Linked DNA regions of Homo sapiens. The protein of the gene in region 2 purifies or fractionates together with the protein of the main gene of each other region. This does not show direct contact. Each region holds a gene or a part of one and is shown on either strand. Other genes may lie near its edges.

What was found.
Region 1: the proteins of MACROD2 (region 2) and HSPA12A purify together in Homo sapiens (affinity purification with mass spectrometry; one large-scale study listed by BioGRID and IntAct). This does not show direct contact.

The regions. Positions count from the first base shown.
Region 1 is NC_000010.11:116,676,567-116,680,066, forward strand, and holds part of HSPA12A (heat shock 70 kDa protein 12A), read right to left. Parts: intron 3,196-3,500; coding exon 2,937-3,195; intron 1-2,936. UniProt on the Homo sapiens protein: Adapter protein for SORL1, but not SORT1. Delays SORL1 internalization and affects SORL1 subcellular localization.
Region 2 is NC_000020.11:15,990,016-15,993,515, reverse strand, and holds part of MACROD2 (ADP-ribose glycohydrolase MACROD2), read right to left. Parts: intron 1-3,500. UniProt on the Homo sapiens protein: Removes ADP-ribose from aspartate and glutamate residues in proteins bearing a single ADP-ribose moiety. Inactive towards proteins bearing poly-ADP-ribose.

The sequences.
Region 1 (3,500 bases), on a different chromosome or scaffold from region 2:
CATAGACACCTGCCCTGGCAGAACATCTGTCACTTCTTAGCAGGCAGAAAGGGGGTTGAAAGCCAAAAGCACCTTTGGAAACCCTAAACTGCCAGGACCTGGACCCTTAGAAGCTCAAAAGCTAAGACATAATCTCTTCTCTGTATCTTAAGTTTGGCTGTGACCGACCTTCCCCTGGGATAGTGGAGGCCAAAGTCTAGTGCAAAGACAAGGAGATAAAGGGCTCACTGTCTCTTTCGCAGGACCACACTTTGAACCCAACAATATTTGGATTCAAGCACGTTAAAAGCTCCCTGGCGAGTTTATTGTACTGCTACTTACGGCTACACATGTGTGCGCTCAGGTGCATGTCCTCAGCCTTCCAGGCACCTGTCAGGTGACAGAGTAAGCCTAATTCTACTAGGTGGCCCTCACGGTCTCTGTCCAGAAGCAGCAGTGTGGAGCAGAGAGTCCTGGACGGGAATCCAGGATTGTGGGGCTCTAGCCTGGCCACCACCACTGCGGAGCTCTGGGACTTTGGGCAGATTAGACTCCATTTTCTTCAAGCCCAGTCTCCACGTCTGGAAGTCAGGGATAACTGCGCTTGCCTTACCTCCTTCACGGGGGTTGTTGTAAAGACGAAGTTAAATACCATGTCTGTGAAAGCGCTCTGGAAACTTTCTGGCACTAAGCAAATGCCAGGGACTGTGTATTCCCCAAACCCACAGGGCGTGCCCCTCCTGTTCTCAGAGGCCAAGCAAATGGCGCCTCTGTCCCTGATGCAAAGTGCACACCAGCAGCTTCCCAGGAACATGTTCTAGATGCTGGACGGGAATCTAGAACATGTTGGTAAGGAATCCTTTCCATGGCGTAGGCCAAAGGACAATGTGGTGTGGTATGGAATGACCCCATGGCTGGCTGCAGCCTGTTTCTTAGTGGGAGGGTTGACAGGCCCCAGAACTGTGCAGGTAGGTCTTGGGATTCCAAACAGAGGACAGGTGCCCTCTGTGGGGGACTAACGGGGCAGAGAACATCAGCCCAGTAAGAGGGTCCAGACTGGCCCTGCTCCAAGGGCAAGAAGACCTGACATGAAATCTGCTTTCACTTCCACTAAAAGGAACCAGGGCTTCTTAGGGAAATGGCCAATTCCAGGCCTGGGGTAGGGAATGTACAAGATGAGCCAAGAGTGTCTTCACATACAAGGAGGCAAAGACACTGTCAACCACCACAAATGTCATGTCAAAGGGATTCAGAGCCAACGTGAGAAGGCTCCTACTGGCCGAGATGGGACAGTGTGGGTGTCAATAAGGATAGAATTGCCATTGTTTAAAATACATCAAATATGCTTAAATCCTCAAATTCCTAATGATACTCCCCCTCATGCCCTCACAAAAGGAAAAATTCATTAGCTACTTTGGCGGATACTAGGAAATTGATTCTTTTTTTTTTTTTAACTCATAAATGGAGGTTGAAACCCAACCTATTTATCCTGTCTTCCCTAAGTGAGCTGTAGTTCAGGGCAACCAAACCACTGAGGAGCCAAGTTTCTCTCTCTAGGAGTATTCTAGCTAAATAAATGAGGAAGGAGTGATGGACCAAGATGGTGGCCATGGAGCCACCCCTAATGCATTAGTGGACCAGGCAATAATCATCAATGGCTGCTAATATCACAAAAGGAGAGACAGGCAGACATTTCGTGTCCCCTGATGGGATGCAGTAGGAGGAACCACCACCCGTAAGGCAGATATGCCAAAGATTCAAACTTGAATCTGATTAAACCTCTAAGTCCATCTGCCAACTTGCAAAAAAAAAAAAAAAAAAAAAAAAGGCTATGGGATAGAACCTGCTGTGTAACACCACGGACGTGAGATGAGCAAAGCCCAGATGATAGGAAACTCCAATCTAAGGACAAACTACTAGTTTTGCCATCTAATAAATTGTGAAGGAAAAACCAGGAGGGGAACCTGTACATTAGTGGGACTCGAGGGGCGTATCAGATAGCTGCTATGTAGAGCCCTCATTTGGATGTTGGTACAAAGTGAAAAAAAAAAAAAAAAAGACAAATGGAAAAATGTTAATGTTAATTAGATACTTGATAATATTGAGGAATTATTAATTGTTAAGTGTTATCGTGGTATTGTGGTTGTGATTTAAAACTTGTCTCCTTTAGAGGTACATACTGAAATAGATGAGATGCTAATTTCTAAGATTTGCTTTAAAATAATTGGATTTAGACTAGCCAGGACCTGACAGTTGTTGAAGCTGGACAATGGGGTATTTTACAGGATAAATGTTTGACATGTTCCCTTACAAAAGGATTATTAGAAAAAGGTAATTATGAAATATGATAGATAGGTAAATCTGTCTGTAGTCATCATTTCATGATGGATATTATATATATAAATTTAAAATGTTTAAGAATATTAGAAATCTATTATTTTTATCTTTTTTTTTAAATTCGGCTTTAAACCGTCTTCTAAATATATTCATTTTGCAACAAGCTGAGACACAAAATCAGTCAAGGGACTCAGAGTGGCAAGAAACCTACATTCCCATTGGATTAATTCCACAAATATTTATTGAGCACCTACTGCATACCAGGTTCTCTTCTAGACACTGGGGATATGGCAGGGGCCAAAACTAAACTTCGCTGCTTTCATAGTTCCTCTGTTTTTAGCAAACACATAGATAATACTTGCCAGGTCCCAGGCATTGTTCTAAGCACCCAACATGTATGAATTCATTGCATTCTCACAACAACCCTTGGAGTTACATAGAATTATTATCCCCATTTTCCATGTGAAAAAAACTGAGGGAAGAGAAGTTGAGTCCCTTGCCCAAGGTCATACAGCAAGTGTGTAGGATTGGAACCCGAAGTCCACACTTCGCTCCTCTCTCCCATCAGCACGATCCACCCGCTAGAATGTCCAGAGCCCGAGGTGATGAGCCCAACTCACTTGCTTTTCCGCAAGGCGTGCTCCACACTGTGCCCGCGGAACTTCTTGTAGTAGTCAATGAAGGAGAAGGGCAGGGTGATGTTCAGCGGGTTAGTTCTGTCTGGGGCAGCCGCCCTTTTGCGAGACTCAAACGCAATCATTAAGTCAACCCAGGCTGCAGGGCGTTTGATTTTGAATTGTTCAATAAAATCCTCTCCAAATATTTTATACAGAAGTTTTTCGAACTCATAATCTACTCCTAAAGATCCATAGGGTCCGCCTGAATTGAGAACAAAAAGGGAGGCCATGGTGTTAAAAACCATTAGAAACCCAATCCAGACTCTGAGAAACAGGCCCACCTGTTCATCTCTGAGCCACTTAGCAATGGGACGGCAGCTATAAGTGTTTACTTACACTTCAGAACCCTGCGCTGCTTCTCATTCCATGTGGAGAAGCTTTTCCCTACAGAAATCTCTTGTCAACAATCTTTACTTTATTATTTTATTTTTGTGTTTTCTTTTTTTTGAGACAAAGTTTTCACCCTTGTTGCCCAGGCTGGAGTGCAGTGGCACAATCTTGGCTCAC
Region 2 (3,500 bases):
GCCTACTACATACCAAGGTTATATGGTGTAGTCTATTGCTCTTAGGTTATAAACCCATACAGCATGTTACTGTGCTGAAGACTGTAGATAATTATAATACAATGGTAAGTATTTGTATGTCAAAACATAACTAAACATAGAAAAGGTACAGTAAAAATGTAGCATCATAATCTTATGGGACCACCGGGACATATACGATCTGTTGTTGACTAAAATGTCACTGTATAGATGATAGATGGATTTTATACACACACACACACACACACACACACACACACACACTCTTCAAATTCTCCTTTGAACCAGTTTTAACATCTTAATGATTCCCTTACTAGTTAATCATTTAAATAAAATATTTTACTTGTATTGATTTTATAGTTGTATGACAGCCATAATTTTATCTTTCTGAAAATTTCAATTTAGCATTATATAATGTCTTTGGAAGGAAGTTAAATATAAGGAACAAATGTTAATAATTATACTCACTATCTTTAGAGAAGGTTAATTTTCTGAAGTATTTCAGGATCATATATGTAAAACAATATTATGTTTAGATGAAGGTACACATTAATCTTTTTATTAGTTGTGAAAAAAATTCAGGTACTTTATGCACAGAGAGTTGAGTTGTAGAACTCTAATTCGGCAGAGAGGAGTAAAAAGCTCAATATTTAAAGACAGAATTCCACTTATGTGAGTCATCTTTTGTTTCTGCAAATTATTTTGATAAACCACGTGGTTTGATAAGCCACATGGTTGTAGAATCATACACCTCAGGGCAAGACCAGAAGGACACAGGCATGATACAAAGTTAAACTGTAAATGAAACTGGAGTGTTAGGAAGTGCAAGAAATCAAAGAAGACAAAGGGCGATACAGGATGTAGCCGGATGCTGGAGACTTAGAAGAGATGGTCTCTTAAAATTCCCCAGATGGGCAAGCACAAGTTAATTACAAGTATTGACCCTAACATTCACTTAAACCTACACACATCCTTGAGTTTGTGGTACTGCACGGAGTGAAGGGATGAGAGGTGGTGGTGGTGTCTGAGTGGGAGCCATAGTGAGAACTAGAGACAGCTTACGAAAAAAGGAATGGCAAAGGCTGAAGTGAGAACCAGAGGCAGGAGCTTGGAGCCTGAGATTAGAAGAAATAAACCTGACACCAAAGAATTCTCAGAGATATTGGAAGGAATGATAGATTTCTCCTAACATGAAAAATGGAGTTTCAGGGCAATTTTTTTCTAAATCTTTAAAGACAAGATGATTGCAGCAAGCTAGAGGATTTGAACAAACTCAAGAGGCCTGCATAACTTTCTTACTGGGTAGATACATGTGAACTTTATACACGTATAATCTAACTTTACGCATATACACATGCATATATGCTATCCACACCAACATCATTATTGTAGCAAGAAATCAAAGTGCAAGACAAAGTGCAGTGAATATACCTTTTATTCTTCTATGTTTTTTAACTTTAAAATTATAGGTCAGTTATGCAGCATAATTTGAATGAACTGGTTCTATATGTTTACATTGCATACATAGAGACATGTAGAAAACCTAAACAATTTAGCTTAAAACTTTATAATTTTTATGTTCAAGGTACTTAACCAATATGAGGAATTTCATTAGATACTAAAATATTCATAAAACCCAAACAGAGACCAGCATTTTTAATTTAACTGATATCCTAAAACATAATTTTGGTTGTTGAATTTCAGATTCAAAATATTATTAAAAAAGAAGAAAACAAATGGTAAAACTGCCCTAGAAAACTAAATGATTGTGCTGCTAATATGAATAATATAGTATTACTAAACTTGACTTCATTTGAAAAGAGATACAAAGACTTTCTGAAGGTAGAATGTTCCAGTAAGTTTGTTACTCAACATGCAAGTGTATATAGTATTTTGCATGAATCAAAAATATGCCTGAGCAATGATTCTTTATAGCCAAGAACACAGTCTGTATATGATGGCCCAAGTGTTAGGTATTCTATTCCCAGGGACATGTCCACTGTGCTATTGTGTAATACACAGGTATTCTGTGTATGGCAACACTGCTAGTGCAAGCTCTGCTTTTCAAGGAGAGAAGAAAGGGCTCTGCCAGTGATGTAAGAATCCTATGAGAAATGGAAAACACCAAGGGCTATACAGGGGTGCTTTGTAGATGAGATAAACCTCTAATGGATTTGATTGGTAGAAGCAGAAGAGAAAGTCCCTCACTTGCTATGTGTTCACTAAAAGATGAAATCGTAGCCAGAGGAGTTGCAAAAAAAGATGTTTCCCACATGGACTAAGAAAGATGGTGATGGAAATCCAGCTTGGTTCTGAGCAGAGTTTCTGTGTAAACCCACCTTGAGCTAAAAGGCATTCCCCTCCCCCTTTAAAGTATCTTTAGGGAATAATTAGCTGTCCAATCATTGGTAAGTCCTAATATATTTGGCTGATTTTTTTTTGCCTGGCCTAGGGCACCTCTATATTTTTATCAATAGGGTACAATAACTAAAACTGAGGAAAACCTATGATTTCAGCTTTCAGCATGGCTGACCATTGGCTCCCATGCCATCGCTCTTGTTTCACCAAGAATGTGGTTCTTCAGAGTTGGCCTTCTAAGAAAATTTATAAAACTGGAGAACCTTATAATTGCAATTTTGAGTTCATGCCCCTCATTATTACCCTAGAGACTGGGATTCTTCGAAGTTTAAGGATTGCCAGGAATCACACAGGCAGGGCTAGAAGCCATGGCTGTCTGTACACTATGTCTCAAGGTCATGCTGGTCAGACCATGCTTGGTTCAAAACATGAACCTAAGGGCATGATACTTTACACTTGTCACTGGCTTGCACTTAACTCTTTACTTGCATGCCTGCCCATATGCATCTTTTTCTAAGAAAACATTAAACCATAGTATACTTTAAGTCTCTGTCAACATTTTGCTCAATCTTAGGTAAACAGACAAAGGATTACTATTCCACACTACACTTATTAATTGATATGAAAAATTATTGGGACCAAATGTATTCATTCTGTTTAACACTTAGAGAAAAAAATATCCAATATATATCATAATAAAACATATATGAAAATTTTGTGAAATAATAACTCGATGTTGATATAGTTAAGATTTTATGTCAAATATTTCTAAATTTGCCCAAATAACAAATGTAAGAAAGATGTTTTAATGCTGACTTTATATTTTATACTAAAACATGAGATCCTTTTCAGAGGAGATCTTCTATAATATTACTTTCCTATTTGGTTATTAACCTAAATGACGTTATTCGACTGGATTTCATATGTGTTGCAGGTCCTGCTGGGAAATCATAAAACTGGGCTCATTTAGGAAGAGGCAACGTGGCTATATCAGAAAAGCTGCCATATGTGAAACCTCACTTTCTGCCTGTTGAAATTTTTGTATTTCAGGTCTCCCAGGGACATGTCCACTGTGCTATTGTGTAATTTTATCAGCATGAACTTCTGCTGAATATTTTTCCTTC